Linked DNA regions of Homo sapiens. The protein of the gene in region 3 purifies or fractionates together with the protein of the main gene of each other region. This does not show direct contact. Each region holds a gene or a part of one and is shown on either strand. Other genes may lie near its edges.

What was found. The genes of interacting proteins can lie anywhere in the genome.
Region 1: the proteins of CDKL1 (region 3) and SIRT1 purify together in Homo sapiens (affinity purification with mass spectrometry; 4 studies listed by BioGRID and IntAct, with this or other methods). This does not show direct contact.
Region 2: the proteins of CDKL1 (region 3) and TRIP6 purify together in Homo sapiens (affinity purification with mass spectrometry; 3 studies listed by BioGRID and IntAct, with this or other methods). This does not show direct contact.

What each region holds. Positions count from the first base shown.
Region 1 is NC_000010.11:67,887,656-67,895,033, forward strand, and holds part of SIRT1 (NAD-dependent protein deacetylase sirtuin-1), read left to right. Parts: intron 1-1,226; coding exon 1,227-1,468; intron 1,469-3,746; coding exon 3,747-3,899; intron 3,900-7,378. UniProt on the Homo sapiens protein: NAD-dependent protein deacetylase that links transcriptional regulation directly to intracellular energetics and participates in the coordination of several separated cellular functions such as cell cycle, response to DNA damage, metabolism, apoptosis and autophagy.
Region 2 is NC_000007.14:100,862,455-100,870,764, reverse strand, and holds the start of TRIP6 (thyroid receptor-interacting protein 6), read right to left. Parts: upstream 3,379-8,310; 5' UTR 3,268-3,378; coding exon 3,159-3,267; intron 2,905-3,158; coding exon 2,777-2,904; intron 2,730-2,776; exon of another isoform or gene 2,658-2,729; coding exon 2,532-2,657; intron 2,271-2,531; coding exon 1,899-2,270; intron 396-1,898; coding exon 302-395; intron 192-301; coding exon 22-191; intron 1-21. Other genes in the region: SLC12A9 (solute carrier family 12 member 9), read right to left, coding at 4,160-5,046, 7,938-8,084. UniProt on the Homo sapiens protein: Relays signals from the cell surface to the nucleus to weaken adherens junction and promote actin cytoskeleton reorganization and cell invasiveness. Involved in lysophosphatidic acid-induced cell adhesion and migration.
Region 3 is NC_000014.9:50,393,539-50,401,585, forward strand, and holds the start of CDKL1 (cyclin-dependent kinase-like 1), read right to left. Parts: upstream 3,344-8,047; 5' UTR 3,286-3,343; exon of another isoform or gene 2,792-3,285; 5' UTR 2,334-2,791; coding exon of another isoform or gene 2,331-2,333; coding exon 2,163-2,330; intron 1-2,162.

The sequences.
Region 1 (7,378 bases), on a different chromosome or scaffold from region 3:
ACCCTCCGCCTTCCAGGTTCAAGCGATTCTCCTGCCTCAGCCTCCCCAGCAGCTGGGATTACATGCATATGCCACTACGCCCGGCTAATTTTGAATTTTTAGTAGAGACGGGGTTTCTCCATGTTGGTCAGGCTGGTCTTGAACTCCCGACCTCAGGTGATCCGTCCGCCTGGGCCTCCCAAAGTGCTGGGATTACAGGCATGTGCCACCTTGCCCCACCTCACTTGTCCCCTTTTTGTGTAGTGTTCTTCATCCGGTTAGAATATCTTCCTCCCTCACTTCATATTCCTTGTTTTTTCACTTTATTGTACACTTACCACTTCTTGAAAAGCTCTGTATCTTACTTTTTAAATTGTGTTGTTTCCTGGTCTAGAATATAAGTTCTACGGGAGCAGGAATTTTTGACTGACTTGTATACTCCTGTCTTTTCAGTGCCTAAAAAAGTGCCTGGCACATAGTTTGTGCTCAATAAATATTTAATAAATATGTGAATGAAATGGGAAAGTATTTCGATGTAGAAAGCATTATCAGTTTTTTATACCAAAGGTATAACCATCTTGAAAGTGGATCTTTTTGTGTTCTCACTCTTACAAATGGCTTGATTATTTAAACATAGTGAAGATCAGTTTCTCTTTGGTGTCTGTAATTTATTTATTTATTTATTTTTGTTTTCTCAAGCCTAGGGAGCTGGTTTGAGCAATCTCAGGGTAAAAGAAAATGATTAGTTCTCAGAACATCAACATTGTATGTATTATCTTGGAAGATGGGTTAAGATCAAATTGAAAAATTACCGGAAAAAAATTAAGATGGCAGTTATGTATAGATTTTCATTTCTTTTTCCTGTGTGGTTTTAATGATAAGTAGTACAGGCTTTTAGGACTGGTACGATTTTTCTATGTCGTAGAACCCTTTTGTAAATACTTTTGGTATTATGGTGTGTGTTTCTAGATATTAACCATAAGAACTTAATTCTGGTTGTTAATTAATTAGACTCTTGAAATATATACTTACAGCTGAAGGGGGTCTTCCCAACTCTTCATTAGATCTTCCTAATCTCATTGGGATATAGCATTAATTCTGAGTGTACCGAGAATGAAATACCATTAAATTGCATTTTCTTACTTTGCAAAAAACCCTCACAGAATGCTAACTCATTACTTCAGAAAATAAATGAGATTTTGAATTACTTGATAAGTTGACTTTAAGCCTTTTCCCCCTTATTGTAGGTCCATATACTTTTGTTCAGCAACATCTTATGATTGGCACAGATCCTCGAACAATTCTTAAAGATTTATTGCCGGAAACAATACCTCCACCTGAGTTGGATGATATGACACTGTGGCAGATTGTTATTAATATCCTTTCAGAACCACCAAAAAGGAAAAAAAGAAAAGATATTAATACAATTGAAGATGCTGTGAAATTACTGCAAGAGTGCAAAAAAATTATAGTTCTAACTGGAGCTGGGGTATGTAAGACTAGTACATGGGGAGGTCGTATATGTATTTTCTTATGCCTTTTCCAAGTAGGAAACATTTTTCTGGTTTAGAAGGATTTATCCTTACATGATAATGGATGTTTGGGAACTGCCAAAAACTGAGTGCAGCAGCAGTTGCTAAATTAGTTCAGATTTTTAAAACCTCTCCAGCCTTAAAAAAATATTTGCTTCTGCTTATTTATAGCACAGTGGGTAAATGGAGTTAAGGCAAGATTTCTACCTACATTATATCATAGCTCCTAAAGGAGATGCAGGGAATTGAAACTCTGCTTTTGTTAAGGGATGTCAGTCTGATGGAGAAATTGGGTATTTGTTAGATCTTTATGAGAAACTGGAAACCTAATTGGTATTCACAAGTGAAAAGCTTAGTGTTGGGAAGAGTAACAGATTCCTACCTTCCCTCCATATTAATTAAGATGATGTGATTGTGGCGACTTGACATTTTCTATTTGATCTACCTTAGGGTTGCAGCTAATTAGTTACCTAAGACTATTGCATAGTGTGTGTTTTATACAGAGTATATTACATGTTAGCAACCAGAGCAACTGCTGTAGTAAAATTTTGTCCTGTTTTCTGCCATTTCGAGTTGCGAAAGGGTGTTACATAATCTTAGATGATCATCAGGAGTATGTTTTGCTCACAGATAACGATGTAGACAAGTTTGTTTAACTTAAATTGACCTTGACTCCAGGTCAAATTGGAGTCAACTCTGGTAAGATGATGAAACAATAACTTCTGAAATCTCTATTTGAAATGTCAGGATTTTTTTGTACGATTAGTGGGCACGTCTCAAAGAAATGAAGAATTGAAATATTATACACCTTTTTTTTTTTTCTTTTTTTTGGATACAGGGTCTTGCTGTGTTGCCCTGGCTGGAGTGCAGTGGTGTCATCATGGCTCACTGCAGTCTCAGCCTCTCCTGGCCTGAGTCTTGCTCTGTTGCCTAGGCTGGAGTGCAGTGGCAGGATCTTGGCTCACTGCAACCTCTGCCTCCTGGGTTCAAGCAATTCTCTTGCCTCAGCCTCCTGAGTAGCTGGGATTACAGGCGCACACCACCACACCTGGCTAATTTTTGTATTTTTAGTAGAGATGGGGTTTCACCATATTGGCCAGGCTGGTCTGAAACTCCTGACCTTGTGATCCGCCTGCCTTGGCCTCCCAAAGTGCCAGGATTACAGGCGTGATCCACCGTGCCTGGCTATACATTGTTTTTTTTAATGAAAATAGAGAATTGTTGTAGTATTGAGGTAATAGAATCCTAACTAAAGGAGCAATTTCTTTGGAATTACTTCTCTGTAATAGAAATTCTTGGCTGGTGGAGTGGCTCATGCATGTAATTCCAGCACTTTGGGAGGCTAAAGTGGGAGGATCACTTGAGCCCTGGAGTTTGAGATCACCCTGAGCAACATAGACCCTGACTCTACAAAAAATTAGCCTGGTGTGCTGGTGCGTACTTGTAGTCCCAGCTGCTAAGGAGGTTGAGGTGGGAGGATTGCTTGAGCCGGAAAGGTTAAGGCCATAATGAGCCATGATGGCACCACTGCACTCCAGCCTGGGCGTCAGAGCGAAACTGTCTAAAAAGAAAAAAAACAAAAAGCCGGGCGCGGTGGCTCACACCTGTAATCCCAGCACTTTGGGAGGCTGAGGCCTGCGGATCACGAGGTTAGGAGATCGAGACCATCTTGGCTAACATGGTGACACCCCGTCTCTACTAAAAATACAAAAAATCAGCCGGTCGCGGTGGCAGGCACCTGCATTCCCAGCTAATCAGTAGGCTAAGGCAGGAGAATGGTGTGAACCCAGGAGGCGGAGCTTACAGTGAGCCGAGATCGCACCACTGCACTCCAGACTGGGCGACAGTGTGAGACTCTGTCTCAAAAAAAAAAAAAACAAAAAAAAAAAGAAAAAATTCTTCCCTACTTAAAATAATTTGTTGAAATGGTTTATTTTCTTCTCAAGTTGCATTTGCTTTAATTTGTTGGCTAAATGCTTAAAAGGCTTAAAATTGGCCTGACTTAAAAATTCCTTATCTGTGTTAAAGATGGAATATGAGGTATGTTTAATTTTACTCAGTTATTTGGGAGTTTTATTTCTGAAATAAGGGTAGGGTTGTATTTTTATTTCTTAAAAGAAGTTTCAGACTAAAATTTTCTTTCTCAACTCTTACCTAATTATATGGTAAGAGAGCTAGCTAGTTCCTATAAAGGTAGAAGATTTAATTTTACAAATTATGCCATGCACATTTTAGGTGTCTGTTTCATGTGGAATACCTGACTTCAGGTCAAGGGATGGTATTTATGCTCGCCTTGCTGTAGACTTCCCAGATCTTCCAGATCCTCAAGCGATGTTTGATATTGAATATTTCAGAAAAGATCCAAGACCATTCTTCAAGTTTGCAAAGGTACTATGAACTCTTCTGGTTGTTTCTTTGGCCTTCTCTCATGAAAAAGTATTTTGTTCACATACAGCCACCTTAAGGTTATCGTTCATTGTTTAGTAAAGTGAATGCTGCTACTGTGGCGGAGTAAGATCACTCATTATGGCTAGAATTCCTTTATTCCTAGAGGAGGACTATTATCTACTTCATTTTAGGAGTGAGCTTATTTTCAAAGAGATAGTTCATATTTTTAAAATTTGCACTGCAGCGATGGTCGTTATTCTGCCTGGGCTTTTTTAAGAGGTTTGCACACCATATAAAAGTAACATAACTTGTGATTTTTAATATTTTATTAGAGATTGTAAAGGTTATAACATCACTTTGGTGTTTCGTAGTCAAGTTTTAACATAAGGATGTGCCTGAAAAATCATTTGTAATTAGAGAATGGGAAGATTCTTGGGTTGCATTTTTGTCAGCAAATTGCAGAGGATCATTATTCTGCTCTAGAGTTGCACCGTCCAGTTCAGAAGCCACTAGCCACATGTGGCTGTTGAGTACTTGAAATGTATTGATATGTGCAATAAGTGTAGAAGACATATTGGATTTTAGAGATCCAGTATGGAAAATACAAAGTATTTCATTAGTTTTATTCATCAAATATTAAACAAATATTGGTTTTTATATGGAAAAAATACTTAAAATTAATTTTGAATTCTTTTGAAATACTTTTGATATTGGGTTAAATAAAATGTATTTTGGGCTGTGCGTGTTGCCTCATGCCTGTAATTTCAGCACTTTGGGAGGCCAAGGTGGGAGGATCAGTTGAGCCCAGGAGTTTGAGACCAGCCTGAGCAACATAATGAGACTCCATCTCTACAAAATAAATAATAAAATTTGCTGAGCATGGTGGTGTGCACCTGTAGACCCATCCACTCAGTAGTCTGAGGTGGGAAGATCCCTTGAGCTCAGGAGCTCAAGACTGAGTGAACCATGATCTGCCATTGCACTCCACCCTGGGCAACAGAGCAAGAGTGTTTCCAAAATATATGTATGTTTTTTGAAGTTTACTTTTTTTTTTTTTCTTTTTTTGAGAAGTAGTCTTCCTTTGTCCCCCAGGCTGGAGTGCAATGGCATGATCTTGGCTCATAGCAACCTCTGCCTCCCAGGTTCAAGTGATTCTCCTGCCTCAGCATCCTGAGTAGCTGGGATTACAGGCGCCCGCTACCATGCCCAGCTAATTTCTGTATTTTTAGTAGAGACAGGGTTTCACCAGGTTGGCCAGGCTGGTGTTGAACTCCTGACTTCAGGTGATCCACCCTCCTCGGCCTCCCAAGGCTCTGGGATTATAGGCGTGAGCCACCGCGCCTGGCCAGTTTTCACCTTAATGTGGTTACTAAACAATTTAAAGTTATATGTATGTCTCACATTATGTACCTATTGTACAGCTCTGCTTTAGCATAGAAAGTTTAATAATGCATTACACCATTCTCAAGAGATTGAGTCATTAGAAAACTGTTTTCTTTCCTGTATTTCAGTCTTTTGGAAAGAAATTACAAAATTTGTTATTGTTAAACTTGGAGGTATATATATTTGAAAGAGTCATTTTATTTTATTTTACTTTAAGTGCCGGGATACATGTGCAGAATGCGCAGATTTGTTAACATAGGTATACATGTGCCATGGTGGTTTGCTGCATCTATCAACCTGTCATCTAGGTTGTAAGCCCCACATTCATTAGGTATTTGTCCTAATGCTTTTCCACCCCTTGCCCCCCACCTCCTGACAGGCCTCTGTGTGTGGTGTTCCCCACCCTGTGTCCATGTGTTCTTATTGTTCAACTCTCACTTATGAGTGAGGACATGTGGTGTTTGGTTTTCTGTTCTTGTGTTAGTTTGCTGAGGATGATGGCTTCCAGCGAAGGAGTCTTGTATTAGTGGCTTTTTCCCCACCTAATCGTTAGAAGTTGTGAATAGGGACTTCTTTAATGAATCCAGAAGTTAATGAACCTAGCTTTTTTTTTTTTTTTTTTGGAGACGGAGTCTGGCTCTGTTTCCCAGGCTGGAGTGTAGTGGTGTGATCTCTGCTCACCATACAACCTCCACTTCCCGAGTTCAAGAGATTCTCCTGCCTCAGCCTTCCGAGTTGTTGGGACTACAGGCGCGTGCTGCCATGCCTGGCTAATTTTTGTATTTTTGGTAGAGACGGGGATTCACTATGTTGGCCAGGTTGGTCTTGAACTCCTGACCTTGTGGTCCGCCCATCTCAGCCTCCCAAAGTGCTGGGATTACAGGTGCGAGGCACCGCGCCCCGCGCCCTGCCGATGAACCTAAATTTTAACTAAACAGTGGCCTTATCTACTTTCAGACCATGTGGTATATTTACATGACTACAGGAGAAGCTTTGCTAATTCAGAATAAATTATGTTACTTAAATTGGCGACTGTCTTTAAAAAAAAAGTGATTTTTTGGATGCAGTAGCTCGTGCCTATAATCCCAGTGCTTTGGGAAGCTGAGATAGGAAGATCTCTTGAACTCCGGAGTTTGAGACCAGCCTGCGCAACACAGTGAGACCCTAATCACTACACCCCTCCACCCCATGTAACTTTTGTTTTATCCAGGTTGTGGTATATTAAATGGGCATTAGTGTAAAGTGGGAAAATTATATTAATTCTTGAATATGATTACTAAACTGAATTTGAAAAGTTTTCAGGCTATCAAGAGAATTTTTAACTTAAAACTTATATAATTTGAACTTTTTACTTCATATATCCGTAATGATGATGGTCATCTATATCTAGCTTTTAGAGCAGACAACTGGTTCATACCTGGATTAAATAAATAATGTAAAGTTATTTTTTGTTAATTATGGATTAGTGAAGATTTACTGTTTTAACCTACTCCTGCTAGTGGCACTACTGCATGGTTTTGAAGACCAGTGAAGTATGACTTAAAGGTTTCTTGAATTGGAGCTAGGACACTGGCATTTATAAAATCTCCACGTAGCGCAGACATTGACACTATCAGAAGACCAGCAAGTAACTAGAAGTTACTTTGATCTTAAATCAACTACAAAAAACTTGACTCACTAGTTATGGAGAATACATTTTTTATTGTTAAACTGAAAAAAAATTCAGTCACTTATAAGGTGTAGCCTCTTCTAATCCTGTTTATATAAATTTATTTATTATTATTATTTTTTGAGATGGAGTCTTGCTCTGTTGCCAGGCTGTAGTGCATTGGCGCGATCTCGGCTCACTGCATCCTCCACCTCCCGGGTTCAAGCAATTCTCTTGCCTCAGCCTCCCAAGTAGCTGGGACTACAGGCACGTGCCATCACGATCAGCACTTTTAGTAGAGACGGGGTTTCACCATGTTGGCAAGGACGTGTCTCGTCGTGACCTCGTGATCCGCCCGTTTCAGCCTCCCAAAGTGTTGGGATTACAGGTGTGAGCCACAATGTCCAGCTGATAAATTTAATTTTGCTTTTCTGAGTTTTCATTTATG
Region 2 (8,310 bases), on a different chromosome or scaffold from region 3:
CTCCCAGCCCCAGCCACTCACCACGTAGCAGCCCTCGCAATATGCCCTCCTCTCCACGGCGTAGAAATGCTGGCCGCGAAGCTGGGCCCGGCATGTAGAACATACAAAGCAGCCCACGTGAAAGACGCGATCAAGGGCCACAACCCCAGCCCCATCCCCAACCACATCTTCTCCGCAGCCACCACACTGGCCTGAGGACAGGGAGAAACAGCATCAGTCTTCACAGACCCAGGAAGCCACTGTCCCCTCTGTCTCCCAGCCTCCCTTCCCACGTCCCACCCACCCCACAGCCTCAGCTCACCAAAGTACTCCCCGCTGGGCGGGTGGTTCATGTCGTGAACCAGCTTCTTCGTCAGCCTATCCAGCTCATCCTCTGGAGGCTGGCTCAGGGGCACCTGGAAGGTGGGAATCGGGCTCGGTCCTACTCTAGCTCCTGATGCTGTAATACCAGGGCCCTCAGCCGCCAGGCCATGGCCTGTTAGGAACTGGGCCACACAGCAGGAGCTGAGCAATGGGCAAGCAAAGCTTCATCTGTATTTACAGCTGCTCCCCATCACTTGCATTACCGCCTGAGCTCCACCTCCTGTCAGATCAGCAGCGGCGTTAGATTCTCATAGGAGCATGAACCCTATTGTGAACTGTGTGTTCGAAGGATGTAGGTTGCAAGCTCCTTATGAGAATCTAATGCCTGATGATCTGTCACTGTCTCCCATCACCCCCAGATGGGACTGTCCAGTTGCAGGAAAACAAGCTCAGGGCTCCCACTGATCCTACATGATGGTGAATTGTATAATTGTTTCGGTATATATTACATTGTAATATACATTGTAATATATACCGAAACAATTATATATACTATATATTCTATTATTATTATAACAGAAATAAAGTGCACAATGAATGTAATGTGCTTGAATCATCCTGAAACCATCCCCCTCCCACCCCCTCCCATCCCCCTCCCCAGTCCATGGAAAAATTGTTTTCCCCAAAACTGGTCCCTGGTGCCAAAAAGATTGGGGACTGCTATAATGTCTCTGAAGGTGGCCAGGCAGTTCCAGCTAGAAAGCTCATCTGAGAACATCTCAGCCCAGGGGCCCGTAGGCAGTTCTTTTTTTTTTTTTTTTTTTTTTTTGAGACAGAGTTTTGCTCTTGTTGCCCAGGTTGGAGAGCAGTGGTGCGATCTCGGCTCACCGCAACCTCCACCTCCCAGGTTCAAGTGATTCTCCTGCCTCAACCTCCCGAGTAGCTGGGATTACAGGCATGTGCCACCATGCCTGGCTAATTTTGTATTTTTAGTAGAGACGAGGTTTCTCCATGTTGGTCAGTGTGGTCTCGAACTCGTGACCTCAGGTGATCCACCCACCTCAGCCTCCCAAAGTGCTGGGATTACAGGCATGAGCCACCGCGCTCAGCCCCAATGGGCAGTTCTATCCTGCTCCCCCGCACTGCCCTGCCCTTACCTATTCCACGTCCCAGACCTCTGACTCTGCTCCAAAACCAGCCCCTTGGCCAGGCGCGGTGGCTCAGGCCTGCAATCCCAGCACTTTGGGAGGCTGAGGCAGGCGGATCACCTGAGGTCGGGAGTTCGAGACCAGCCTGGCCAACAAACTGGGGTTTTAGTGAAACCCCGTCTGTACTAAAAATACAAAAATTAACCAAGCGTGGCAGCGTGTGCCTGTAATCCAGTTATTCAGGAGGCTGAGGCAGGAGAATCACTTGAACCCGGGAGGCAGAGGTTGCAGTGAGCCAAGATGGCACCACTGCACCCCAGCCTGGGCAAACAAGAGCAAAACTCTGTCTCAAAAAACAAAAAAGCCCCCTAAAACACCACCAGCCACCCCACCCAGTCGGTGTCCCATTGTCTGTAGGGCCTGAAATCCCAGTTCCCCAGGGCTCACCTGGGGCCCGTGCTCGCCTCCTCTTCCTCTTCCTGCAGGGCCAGAGACCCCAGCAGCTTCCTCTTTGGCCCCTGGCCCTGGCTCTCTCTGGCTCCTATAGCCAGGCCCCCAGACTTCACCTCGGCCTGGGAGAGGAAAGTGGGGGCCCGGGAGGGGCCCAGAGGCCTGAGAGGCTCCCCGCCTGGGTGGGCCGCAGCCCCTCACTGGCTGTGCCACCTTCACTTGCACGGGGAAGGCTGGGCCAGCCGGGGTGCTGGCGGTAGTGTAAGAGGCTGGAGTGGGGCCCCCATAGGGAGACGCTGGGAGCGGCGAGGCTGGATTTGGCTTCAGGGAGCCCGTGCGGTAGGCAGGAGGTGGCGGGGGCTCATATGCCTGAGGAGAAACGCAGGCCAGAAGTCGTAAGCAAGGACCCCACTCCAAGACCCACATTTGTGGAAATGACCCTGGCTGTGGGGAAGCACAGGCTTTTTGCATTTGACAAGGTCCCGTCCTCAAGTGGCTGACATGTTGGTACTTGCAGCCACGCTTCCTCCATGCTGGGGTGCACATTACACACATGGGGGATCGATCAGGCTGGGTCTGAGAGTCCAGAGAAGGGGGCAGGGTGCTGACGGGGAGGAGGGGCAGAGTCACCTGTCGGTCTGGTCGCCGTGACGCATGACCCCGACCCCCATTCAGCTCGGCCAGCGTGCTGCTCAGCAAGTCTATCTCGGCGTCCAGGCTTCCAGGGCGAAGGCCCCCCCTGTCTGCAGGGAGCCCCTGAGGATGGAGCCAGGGCAGGAAGAATGCAAATCACCATAGGCCTTCTCCTGTCCTGGGTCCCTCAGACTCGGTTCTGGGGGATCCCACATGTCCCACCCCACGATCCCGGGTCTCACCTGCGTGTGCTGGAGTACTCCATGGGACCCCACCCACGCCGGCCCCCGATCCTCCGGTCCCCCTGGGGCCTGGTAACACTGCTCAGATGGAAGGGGGCAAAAATTGACCCTGGGGTGGGGCTGGAGTGCTGGGTTGAGGGAAGAGAAATCAAAGGTGGGGTGGCGGAGGACAGGAGGGGTGTATATTTGAGGAGCCACCCTCTCCGCCTCTCGTTACCTCCTCCCCCAAATCTAGGGTCCCAAGAGAGCGCAGGCGGCTGTTCCCCCCGCCTCGGCTTGGGGAAGGGGCAGGAGGAAGCAGCCAGGGCGGGAGGCTGGAGCGGTAGGACAGAGGTGAGCGCCACAGCTGGGTGGCTCTTCTGTCTCACAAGGGCTGCCTTACCTGCTCCGTGGGCCGGTGGTGGCCCCGGGGTGCCGCGGGGGATCGCCCTCCCCTGAGGGGCTCTGGCGGGCTCCGGCTGCTTCGGGGGCAGCCAGGTGGGCCCCGACATGGCCTGGAAAGGGGGACTCCAGACAGCGGTCTTGAAGCCCCGAGCCTCTGGCCTTCACCCCCTCTTCCGTCCCGCACCTCGTTTGGGACTCCAGAAAAGAAAACTTTTTCTGGCTTTTTTTTTTCCTCTTCCTCCCTAATTTTGGGGACGACCACGCCTCCGATGACGTCACCACATTCCTGGGGGAGGGTCACGTGGCCCCCTAGGCCCTAAACTGCCATTTCTCCCTGAGTCAGCCCCCTCCTGCCGAGAGGGGAGGGCTCTCCGGGGGATCCCGAGTCACTGGGGGTTGCGGGCAGCTGGGGATGGGAGGTGCGGGCCCGAGCCAGCCTCCAAGTCCACGGATGCGTCCGGGCCCCGCACCCCAGCCCTGCACGTGGCAGCCTCGCGGCGGGAGGCTGAAGGCTCCGATCTCCACCCCTCTGCAGAGCTCTCCATTCCCACCCCCTCCCTCTCAGCTACCCACCAGCACTGCTCAGCCAGCCTGTAGTGTTTTGGTCTTTTATTCATGGTCAGCAGAGTTAGAAAAATAAAACAGAACGAAAACATCACCACCCCAGTGGGCCGGTGAGTCTGGCCAAAATGGGGAAACTGAGGTAGCCCAGAGTCACAGAGGAGGCCTGGCCCCTAGCATCAAGGCACCAGTGAAGGGAGGCTGCGGACTCCCTCCCCTGCACGGTGGGGACAGCCACCCAGAGTTAGTGTGCTGGGGTCCCTCTGCCAAAGGAGGTGGGCGTGATGCCCAAGCCCAGGATCCCCTTCAAACCTCCCCTGGGCTCCACGTCCCAAGGGCAGGGCCACGGGCCACAGTGGCCTCCTCTTCCTCCTCCTCCAAGGATCAGGATAGGCCGCCTGCCTGGGCCCTCTCTACCTAGCCCTGGAGGCAGGGGCATCACAGATCAGTGCAGGTGACTGGAGTGACCCCATGAACCAGCAGCGTGGGGCCCAGGTCTCGGGTTAGAGTCTCCAGTAGCGCCAGGTAGCGGGGGTATCGGGCGGGATCGGCTGGCGGCCGAGGCAAGTACAGGAAGGTGAGGGCTGTGATGGGGCCCTCAGCATCCCCACCCTCCGGCCCACCCGGCCCTCCTCCTGTGCCGCGCCCCTGCTGGGCCCGAACCAGGGCGTTGGCGCTGCGTGCCAGGGCCTCTGCCTCTGCGTCTCCCCGCCCACTGTTCACAAAGTCCCCTTCCTCCTCCGCCTCGGGTTCCCCAGCCCCGGCCCCCTCGCCCCACACCACCTCCTGCACCTCAGCCCGGATCCTCAGTTGGCTCAGCAGTGCCCGCAGCCGCCCCTCGGCCGCCCCAGGCGCCTCCCGAGGCCCCAGGCACAGGAAGATCCGGAGCCGGGCGCTATGCCAAGCGGGCACCATGCCCAAGATGGTTGCCATCTGCAGCAGGAAGAGGCCGCAGACATCCACATAGCCGGGCCCACCCCGGGGCCGCAGCAGGTTGAGGGGCCACACGTCCACATGGTGCAGCTGAGAGGTGCCCCCAGACCCCCGGCTCAGCCGCTCAGGGGGCAAGGCCCCGCTGGCCCGGGCCAGCACCACATTCTTGTTCATCTTGAGGGCGTCGGCCACCGTGGCCACATAGTCCTGGGGATTGAGGGCCCGGGGGCTCCCAGGAGCCCGGGGAGGAGGGAACAGGGTGCTCAGAGCTGGGGAACTGCCCTCCCTGGTGCTGTCTGCAGGCTCAGAGAAAGCCGGGTCCGTCAGGAAATGGTCCTGCGGTGGAGCGTCATCGTAGAAACCTAGGACCAACGTGTTGGGCTTCATGCCACCTGGGGGCAGAGCGGGGAAGGCAGGAACAGACAGGAGTCAGGCTCACAGGCTAAGTTTACACCACGCTCCCACACACTGACAGCAAGGTGCGTCAGCCATAGGTATGACATTCCCACTGTGTACGGGCTCTTACGGCAACATTCTGCATATTTGCATAAAGACTTTTCATTTTTCCTAAACACTTTCACATGCATTTATTTTATTATCTCAGTGACTAATCTCCTCCACTTAAACAGGCAAAGTTCGCCTTAGGATTCTTGCCACTAATGAGCACTCCAATTCTATGGAGAGGAGGATGCTGTCCACTCCCGGCTTCTAGCGGGGCATCTGTTTCACGGCAGGGGATGCGAGTTTGACTCTGTTGTGCAAACCAGACACCCTGATCAGCCAAGCTCATGACCTGAATCCCCAGGGTAATAGCGTCCCAGACTCTGCAATGGGAAGATGAAAAAATGGACCAGGCAGGGCACCGTGGCTCACACCTGTAATCGCAGCATCTTGGGAAGCTGAGGCACGTTGATCACCTGAGATCAGGAGTTTGAGACCAGCCTGGCCAATACGGTGAAATGCTATCTCTACTAAAAATACAAAAATTAGCCGGGCATTGTGGTGGGCATCTATAATCCCAGCTACTCAGGAGGCTGAGACATGAGAATTGCCTGAACCCGGAAGGTGGTGGTTGTAGTAAGCCGAGATCACGCCACTGCACTCCAGCCTGGGCAACAGAGCGAGACTCCATCTCAAAAAAAAAGAAAAAAAGAAACAGGGCTACCCCGTATGTTTACTGCAGTAAACCCTAACCCTAGTAGGTTTTACCAAAACCCTAATCATGGTGGTTCATTGCATGGTATCCGCTTACCAGGGGCTATGTCCTGTAGAAAGCACTTTATATTTTAACTTATTTGAAACTCGAAGTAATGCTATGAGGTAGGTAATATTTAGTCTCCTCTTTTTACTGATAAGGAGCCCAAAGCACCAAGGGATGAAGTCACTTGCCCATAGGCTCATATCTGGTAGGTACTGGGGCAGGTAGGTCAACGCAATCCGCCTCCATCCAGCGTGAGAGGCCACACTCTGAGCCACCGAGCTGGGCACGTGGCAACCACAATGCTCCAAGTCCCTGCTGACAAGCTCTTCGTTCTTAATTTTTGAACAACCCTTGTGGAATCGGATAATTGCTGAGTTTACAGGGAGACGCAGAGACCTCTTCCAAGACCCCTTCTCATGAAACAAACACTGCTCAAGCCATAAATCAAATTTTCTATGACAGGAGAATCCACCATTTAAAGGAACTACTTTTCCTTTTATTGGAATAGGTTGGTGCAAAAGTAATTGTGGTTCTTTTTTTCCCCCATTAAAATGGCATCCCAGCACTTTGGGAGGCTGAGGCAGGCGGATCACCTGAGGTTGGAAGTTCGAGATCAGCCTGGGCAATATGGTGAAACCCCGTCTCTACCAAAAATATACAAAAATTAGCCGGACAATGCTGGCGTATATCTGTAGTCCCAGCTACTTGGGAGGCTGAGATGGGAGAATACTTGAACCCGGGAGGCAGAGGTTGCAGTGAGCTGACATTGTGCCACTGCACTCCAGCCTGGGCAACAGAGTGAGACCCTGTCCAAAAAAAAAAAAAAAAAAAGGCAAAAACCGCAATTGCTTTTGCACCGACCTGATATCTTCCACAGGAAAAATTTCGTATTTCATAAGCATTGTGGTCTCTGCACAAAAAGTGAAGACCAGGCTCTCAGATGTTCTGTGGGTCAATGATGCTTGACGACACCCCAAAACATCTCCGCAGGTGTGAATTCCAGCTGATCTTGCAAAATAAACTAGTCATGCCCCCTCCTCAGTATTTCCCAGGGTTCTGATTTACACTGAACTGGGCAATGTCCAACACTGTTGAACTTTAGCCAGACTCTGAATAGAGAAGGAAGCATGCACTTTGGTGACGGGCACTGGTCCAGGATTAAGGGAAAAGGCAGTGACTGAGCATAGATAACCCTGGTGGCCTCAGCGCTAAAAGCTGAGAATTTACCGCTCCATCCACAGACGTCCGCCCCACACAGCCTCCGGCATCCTTTGTGGCTTTGGGTGGCGGGGGCAGGGGAGACATGTTACATCTCCTACATCCCAACCTCTTTCAAAGTCTGGATGAATTACCATCTCTCCGCAAAACCTTTGCTGGCCACATCAGTGTATAGTGGCTGGCCTGCCTTCCTCTGAACACTGGTGGTTAAAAACCATCTGATTTGATGAGGCAGCTGGAGATTCAAATAATGCTCCATTGTCTCCAAAAATACACTCTTCAGTGCCTATGCCCCAATTTTTGGATCAGAAAAAAAAAGAAGGAAAGGCTGGGCACAGTGGTACATGCCTGTAATCCCAGCACTTTGGGAGGCCGAGGCGGGTAGATCACCTGAGGTCAGGAGCTCGACACTGGCCTGGGCAACATGGTGAAACCCCCATCTCTACTAAAAATACAAAAATTAGCCAGGTATGGTAGCACATGCCTATAGTCCCAGATATTTGGGAGGCTAAGACAGGAGAATCACTTGAACCTGGGAGGTGGAGGAGGCAGTGAGCCAAGATCGTGCCACTGTACTCCAGCCTGGGCAAGACAGAGTGAGACTCCGTCTCAAAAAAAAAAAAAAAAAAGAAGAAGGAAAAAAAACCCACAACATCGCCCACCCCATCACTAGTCCCTAGCATCTCCTATTAGACCTTATCACACACTGTCTGAGGCTATTATCTTTGAGCACTGTCTTATCTCCTCTCGACTATAAGGTCCTTTTGCAGTTTGCAATCTGTGGCTGACTCTCTAGGGGAGGGGAGCGGAGATTTGAAGTGGCCACAGAGGAAGGCCGAGGGCATCCAGGGAGAAGCAGCTCACCGAGGCCGGAGATTCGCAGCAGATGCTGAGCCCCCTGGCGCACGGAGGGTGAGAGGGTTAGATCCACAAAAGCCTTCACCTGGGCACGGTCCACCAGGCTGAGCCATGCCCCATACTGCGGCTGTACAGGGTCCGAGGGCAGGGAGTCTACAGAGAAGATAAGGAAAGGAAGGTAGCCAGTGTTGTCCAAACTCAATGTCTCCTAGAGTCCAAATCACAGACGGGCCTGGGCAGGGCTATGGCTACTTGGAGGGGTCATGGGAAAGGATAAAAGGGGCAGAGGGGCTGGTGTCGGGGCTCATGCCTGTAATCCCTGCCCTTTGGGAAGCCAAGGTGGGAGGGCTGCTTGAGCCAGGAGTTCCAGACAGCCTGG
Region 3 (8,047 bases):
CCTAATCATAGCTCACCATAGCCTTGAACTGCTGGGCTTAAGCCATCCTCTTGCCTTGGCCTCTTTCCTTAGTAGCTAGGACCACAGGCACGCACCACCATGCCCAGCCTAGTACGTATTATGTGTTAGGAATATCACACAACTCTGAAAAGTTACAGCTTTAAAGAACAGACTCTACCTATAATCTAGTCCCACCATTTCATAGAGATCAGTGGTGTCTACATCTGTGCACTTAATTTGGAGAGTGGGGTGCTGCATGCTTTGAAATCAGGCTCATGTGTACACAACCCCATCCTTTGGAGGATATCAATATTCAGATAAGAGAACACATTTGACTTCCCCATTTATTGGCAACATCCACCTTTGTTAAGAGTTTATTTTGTTAACTTTTTTTTCCAATCCAACAATGACATTTTTTGGAGGCCTAGATGTGCCAACTAGTGTGCTTTGGGGATATAGAGCTACAGAGGCAAGGTCTCCATCCCAGAAGAACTCAATGAATTTGGGGAGCTATCACTGTTAATGTAGTATTGATAAAGTGTAGTGAGAGATTTGAAAGGAGCATTCACAAAAGTAATCTTCAGAATCAGAAAAAGAGTATCTTTCTGCAAGAAACAGATTTTCTTTCAGGTAAATGAACCCTTTGAAATGTAATGATCACCTCCTCCCCTGGGAAAGCCTGAGGAAGTGAAAATGCCCAACAGCCTCTCCCTGTGTACAGAGAGGGTAAGGGTAGGGTGACCCGGGCAGGGGGATGGTCAAAACACTGCAGGTCTCACCCCTGCCCATGGGAGCACTCCCCTGCGGGGCTTTGGAAGCATCTCCTCTCAATAGATAATATCCTGTTGGTTAAGAACATTCCAAACCTAAATAGAGAAGTTGCCCTGTTACCCACCCATTCCAATTTATCCAAAGCTTGCTACTTTCCATTTAGGTTCCTTATCTAGAAGTGACCCCACACACTTATCCATGGGCACAAGATTTGTAGAGTGATCTGGAGAAAATGGAGAAGCAAGAATAATAGTAAATCCCCTGGAAGTTTCATTCATCTGTCTCTCATCAAGTAGCTCTTCCCTTGTCACATAGTAGTTATACAGGTCAGAACAGAGAGGCCATAACTGAAACAAAGTTGACCTCCACCATATTCATTACATGTCACCTTTCACATTGCGATTTGGATTTTACCTTCACAGAAGTTCTGTAAAGTAGTCTCTCCATTAGCGAAAAACACACTTTCAGCTTGTAATAAATACCTTTCCCCCCTCTGATATCATGTTATTTTTAGGGTTAACTAATAAACATTTGAAAAGTGATCAGGCCAGGCTCGATGGATCATGCCTGTAATCCCACCACTTTAGGAGGCCAAGGTGGAAGGATCACTTAAGGCCAGGAACTCGAGACCAGCCTGGCCAACATAGCAAGATCCCATCTCTAAAAAATGTTAAAAAAAATTAGAAAGTGATCATTTCACTTCTTTAAGAAAAACGCTTCTTTTTAGAAACGGGACATGATGATGCTCAGCAGTAAATACATATGAGGTGTAATGAGAATCTGTGAGCTTCCTAGCAGTTTGAAAACAGGTAAATGTTAATTCTCTTAATAGACTGAGTATACCAATAGGAAATACCTTAGAAGTTTAAAAATCAACAATGCCAGCAAAATTGAATTGTCTTACATTCCTATACTATCAAATTGTAATGGTCCTTGAAAACCCAGGTCTACAGGTGGGAGAGAAATTATGGGGAAGAAAAATAAATATCCCACAGCATCTCTAAAAGTGAATGCCACCTTACCTGGCACTTTTGTCTCTGCTTTCTAGTTCATTATATAATTAGTGACTTGTGCACAGATATCCCATTTGTGTCACTGAAGTCAAAAGGCTATGAAGTAAGATATAACCATGTCCCATGACATTCTTTTAACATAACATGACTCACTTTATTTCTTTCATCCCTAAAAATTCACTTTAAAGAAAAAGTGGATCCCGGAGCAGTGGCTAGAACCTGTAATCCCAGCTACTCAGGAGGCTGAGGCAGAAGCATGGCTTGAGCCCAGGAGTTCCAGGCTGCTGTGAGCTATGATCACATGGCTGCACTCCAGCCTGGGAGACAGAGTGAAACCCTGTCTCGAAAAAGAAAAAAAAGGAAAAGTGAATCAATTACCTTGAGCATTCGGATTTCCCGAAGGGCAATTTTCTTTATGACAGGGTCATCTTCTGATTCCAGAAACTTCTTGATGGCCACAATCTGACCCGTGTCCCTGTTTCTACATTTGAAAACAACTCCATAGGATCCTTCTCCAATTTTCCCAATTTTTTCATACTTCTCCATCATAGAGGAATAAATCTTCTTAAAATGGATCTTCAGCCGAGAATGGTGGCTCACGCCTGTAATCCCAGCACTTTGGGAGGCTGAGGCGGGCAGATCACCTGAGGTCAGGAGTTCGAGACCAGTCTGGCCAACATACTGAAACTCCGTCTCTACTAAAGATACAAAAAATTAGCCGGGTGTGGTGATGGGCGCCCGTAGTCCCAGCAACTCAGGAGACTGAGGCAGGAGAATCGCGTGAACCTGGGAGGCGCAGGTTGCAGTGAGCCGAGATCGCGCCACTGCACTCCAGCCCGGGCGACAGAGCGAGATTCCGTCTCAAAAAAAAAAAAAAAAAAAAAAAAAAAAGAAAGAAAGAAAAGAAAAGAAAGGATCTTCACATAGTTTGAAAACGTCGCTTATAAAATATTGGCACCAACGGACTGCACTAGAGCCCCACCCAACGATGAGTGTTTGTCACGGTCCTAGAACAGAACAGCACATGTTAAGGAATGAAGAGTGTACCCGTGTCGGCAATGGCAACGCGATCAGGAGTAACAGCCTAGAGTTAGCTGCCTCCAGTAACCCGATTTTAATCGCCCGTTAAATACCCTGTAAGTTAAAATGTAACTTGCCATCCTAAAACGAGCCGAGCTGTAAGATAAGCTATCTTTTTAACGTTATCGTTCATCCGATCTAAGACACCTGAGCTGGCTGGAGTACGGGGAGGGCTAAGGGCTTCCCCGGTTCTAATTTCGGGTCTCATTTCCCTGCGGCAAGAAGACACCTCCCGGCTCCCCGCGGAGGCGGCGGCGAGGCTTGGCCGCAGGAGACCAACCCGCGCCCCGCGCCCCACGCCCCCGGGACTGGGAAAACCCTCCCGCGCCCGGACGTGCACCTCAGCCGCGCCGCGCAGCATGGAGCGGTGCCACGTGTTGGCCAGGGACGGCCCGCGCCTCCTTGCCCGCCCGGGACTCACGGCGCCGCGGCGGTCAGGGACGGGCCTGGCTCCCGCCTCGCCTTCTTCCGCCCAGCTCGGCTCGGCGTGGCTCGGCCCGCGATCCCTATGGGAACCGGCTCCCGCCCCGGGTCTGCCTGGGCGGGGCCGCCGCGCCCCAGCTTCCCACCCCCGGCCCGGCCCAGCCCGGCCGCCCTCCCGGCTGCAGGGAAAGGCCTCGGAGGGCCGCCCTCCGTCCATGGGAGCTGTCCTGACCGCGGGCCGAGTCCTGCTGCCGGGAGAGCAGACCTGCTAGATTTGCAAACTTCCGCAGGCCGTGCAAAGCGCAGCTGTAACCGCGTCTGCGGAGCAAGACGCCTGCGCTAGGAGCCCCTCCTGAGCGGTCCACATTTCCCTGCAACAGCAGTCCCCACACCTCAGAACCGCGGTTATTCCCTTTGGTCCCTTGGAGGCATCTTCTGTGTCTGTGCTGATCAGTGCTGCGGCGTCAGTGAATGAATGAGAGGGAGAAAGGAAAGAAGAGGAAGGCGTGACTGCAGAAATTGCTTAAAGTCAGCACTTTCCTCTACAGTAGGGAAGGTTCCACGGCAGTCTTCTGCTGTGGGACTTTTCTGGTGTGGGAGGTGGAAGCTTACAGAGTCTGCCTTAATTGTTTTTGGTTCCTTTCCCCCATCTTTCTCCCAACGGACTCCTACTGCTCAAATCTGAGCACACTGGCGGGAAGCGGATGGACCTGGGGAAATTATGAAATCATGTCAGTTGCCACTGGGCAGAGTGCCTCACACTTTATCATCCGTCCCGTTCCCAGTGCCAGCATCAATGCGGGTACTTGTCCTGGAAGCAGTACCCGAGGAGAGAAAATTAACACAGTGTCTATGAAACAGGGGCCAATCCCGTGTCAAGCAGCATGCTACTAAATGTAAACCCAGGAAGGGTTCAGAAAGGAGCCTGGAGCTGAGGAGAGAGGGCTGGTGGCTGCCCTGGAAACCCAGTACAAGGATGGCCTAGAGGTGGTCTGTGAACAGAAATTGTTTGCAAATGGCAACCATTGATCTGTTTTCTGTCTCTATAGTTTTGCCTTTTCCAGAATGTCATGAAAATGGAATCAGACCGTATGTAGCCTTTTGAGGATAGAGGATCTCCCCCACCACCCCAACTCCAGTGAGCTTTCAGATGAGATTGTAGCCCCAGATGACAATGTAAGTTCAATCTTGTGAGAGACCTTGAGCCAGGGGCACCCAGCTAAGCCATACTTGGGTTCCTGACCTCTAGAAACTGAAATATGTTTGCTATTATGTTTTGGGGTAATTTGTTATGCAACCATATGTATCTAACACAGAAGCCTTTTATTAATAGGAGGTTGAGAAAGTTCACTTTCATTCCTAGTTTGCTTAGTGTTTTTGTTTGCTTTTTAAAATTATGAATGGATGTTGAATTTTATCAAATGCATTTCTTCATCTAGAGGTGATCATTTCCTTTTCCTTTCTTTTCTTTTTTTTTTTTAATTGAGAGGGAGTCTCGCTCTGTCACCCAGGCTGGAGTGCAGTAGTGTTATCACTGCTCACTGTACCCTTGAACTCCTGGGCCTAAGCAATCCTCCCACTTCTGCCAGGCCTGAGTAGCTAGAATTATAGGTGTGCACCACCTAATTGTTTTTATGTAGTCTGTTGATACGGTGAATTATATTGATTTTTAGATGTTGAACCAACCTTTTGTTCCTGGGATAAACCCAACTTATTTATGATTTTATCATTTTAATGTATTGCTGGATTTGATTAGTAATATTTTATTGGAAATTTTTACATTCATGTTTTGAGAGATATTGATGTATAGTTTTCTTGTAATATCTGCTAATTTTGGCATCAGGATAATGCTGATCTCAGAAAATGAGTTGGGAAGTGTTTATCTTCCCTTTTATTTTCTAGAGATGTTTACATTAAATTGGTATTATTAATTCCTTAAATGTTTGGAAGAATTTTTTTTGTTTTTTTTTTTGAGACAGTCTTGCTCTGTCATCCAGGCTGGAGTGCAGTGGTGTGATCTTGGCTCACTGCAACCTCTGCCTCCCAGGCTCAGGCGATCCTCTTGCCTCAGCCTCCAAAGTAGGTGTGCCACCACGCCTGGCTAATTTTTGTGTTTTTTGTAGAGACAGGGTTTCACCATATTGCCTAGGCTGGTCTCCAACTACTGAGCTCAGATAATCTGCCTGCCTCAACCTCCCAAAGTGCTGGGATTACAGGCATGAGCCACTGCACCCCGCCTTCTAATATAAGCATTTAATGCCATAATTTTTCCTGTAAGCACCACTTTAAATACATCACAGAAATCTTAATATGTTGTATCATCATTTTCATTCAGTTCAAAATATTTTTTTTTTTTTTTTTTTTTTTGAGATGGAGTCTCACTCTGTCACCCAGGCTAGAGTGCAATAGTGTGATCTCGGCTCACTGCAACCTCCGCCTCCCAGGTTCAAGCGATTCTCCCACCTCAGCCTCCCAAGTAGCTGGAACTACAGGCATGCACCATCATGCCCAGCTAATTTTTGTATTTTTAGTACAGACAGGGTTTCATCATGTTGGCCAGGCTGGTCTTGAACTCCTGACCTCAAATGATGCTCCCGCATTGGCTCCCAAAGTGCTGGGATTATAGATGTGAGCCACCATGCCTGGCCCAAAAATATTTTCCTTGTGACTTCCTTTTTGACTCATGGGTTATTTTTGTAGTGTGTTAATTTCCAACTATTTGGTGATTTTTAAAGATATCTGTTATTGATTTCTAGTTTAATTCCATTATTTTCAGAGAACTCAGTTTATATGACTTAAATTCTTTGAAATGTTTTATTTTGTTTTATGACCCAGAAAGAATATGGTCTATGTTCATGAATGTTTCTTTTTGACAATTAAAAAAAATATTTTGAAATGAAGTGAGAAAGTCAGTGTGAATTTCCCCAGAGCTGCATCGTCTGAAGTTCATACCAGGTTAAATCAAGTTTGTCTGGAAAATTAACTTTATGGACTCCACAACGTCAGTACCCAAAGAGCCTGGAACTGTGCCAGGCCTAGTGGTAGTTAAAGTAGGAGCCAGTGTACTGGTTATTTATGCCCAAGTAGGCAGTGAACCAGAAAGCTAGCATGACTTGCAGCTGCAAGTTGTTTTGTTTGGAGGAATTTGAAATAAAATATTAGAGAACAACTTTAAAAGGGAGATGAACAGTCGGCTGTCACCACTTAGCACAAAAGAGAGAAGGTAACGTGGCCTCTAGACTAGTCAAACTGACAGTCCTTTCCCTTGGCAGGTGCGACACTGGTTTTGGTATCAAAGAAGTATATAACTCCTGGAAAGTATAGCTCTTGGGAATCTCAGAAATGGTCTGTTATGTGGGGGCTTTTTCTCAAGCCAGTGCAAAGTGAAACAGCATTATATTCTGCTAATAGTGATCTTTTCTTTGCAGTTTGTATAATTAGCGAGAATACTTCAGTGTTCTTAGAACAGCACAAACCGTACTATGGTATTTTAATCATTTAAGGAAAAATAAACATTCAGTAGGGTAACATATGGTCACAGAAAAAGCCTGGAATTTGGAGTCAGAAGACCAGGATTTCTACCTACTTACTGGTGTTTGATCTTGTGCAAGATAATTACTATTGCCTATATAACAACATTATTTAATGAGTGCTTACTTTGTGGCAGGCATTATGCTATGAATATTTGACCCATGAGCCTCACAATAACCCCAGGAGATAGGCATTAAATATCATCCTGAGCTTTCAGATGACTCTCATTGAGTTGGAGAGGATAAGTAGCTAGCCTAAGGACACCCAGCTAGTGAAGTGTGAAGTCAGTATTGGAATGCAGGTGGTTTGACTCCAGAATCTTTTCTCCTAACCATTTTGCTAATACTACCTAATGCATTGTGGTGGTTGTCAGGATTATTGAGTTAATGTGTAGGACATTGAGAGCTGGCGCAGAGCACTTAAAATGATGCACAGTGTAGCACCTTCCTCCTTTTTTTTAGGCTACCGGGAAGACTCATCTTGTCTATATGCTCCCTTCTCATGGTAGCTCAGCAACTTCATGTGTGTGCAGCTCCAGCACCAGGAGAATGAACTTCCATGAGATTGGGCAGAACACTGAAGCCTCATCTGAGTGCAGAACCCAGGGCCAATGCTTGAAGCCTTTTTTCTTTTTTTTTGAGATGGAGTCTCGCTTTGTTGCCCAGGCTGGAGTGCAATGGTGCGATCTCGGCTGACTGCAAACTCTGCATCCCAGGTTCAAGCCATTCTCCTGCCTCAGCCTCCCGAGTAGCTGGGACTGCAGGCACCCGCCACCACACCTGGCTACTTTTTTGTATTTTTAGTAGAGATGGGGTTTCACTGTGTTGGCCAGGCTGGTCTCGAACTCCTGACCTCGTGATCCGCCCGCCTCAGCCTCCCAAAGTGCTGGGATTACAGGCATGAGCCACCGTGCCCAGCCAGCTTTTTTTTTTTTTTTTCCAATTATGTTGTAAGGAAAGGGGAGTTGAGTCAATGTCATTTTAAAATGACACTCTACAGCAGCTTGAGGAAATACTTGAATTTATTGTCTCTGTTTTAAGTGGAATTGGGAAAGAAATTGATTCCAGAGTCCATACAGACAAAAGCTAATAACTATCATTTAGGGACGCATTTCAGGCTCAGTATCCACATTATCTCTGATCTTTATGACAATCTTACATGGATTTGTTAACTGACTGGGATTATTAACTGGCCTGTTTTATGAAAGAAGAAGCTGAGGCTCTGAGAGA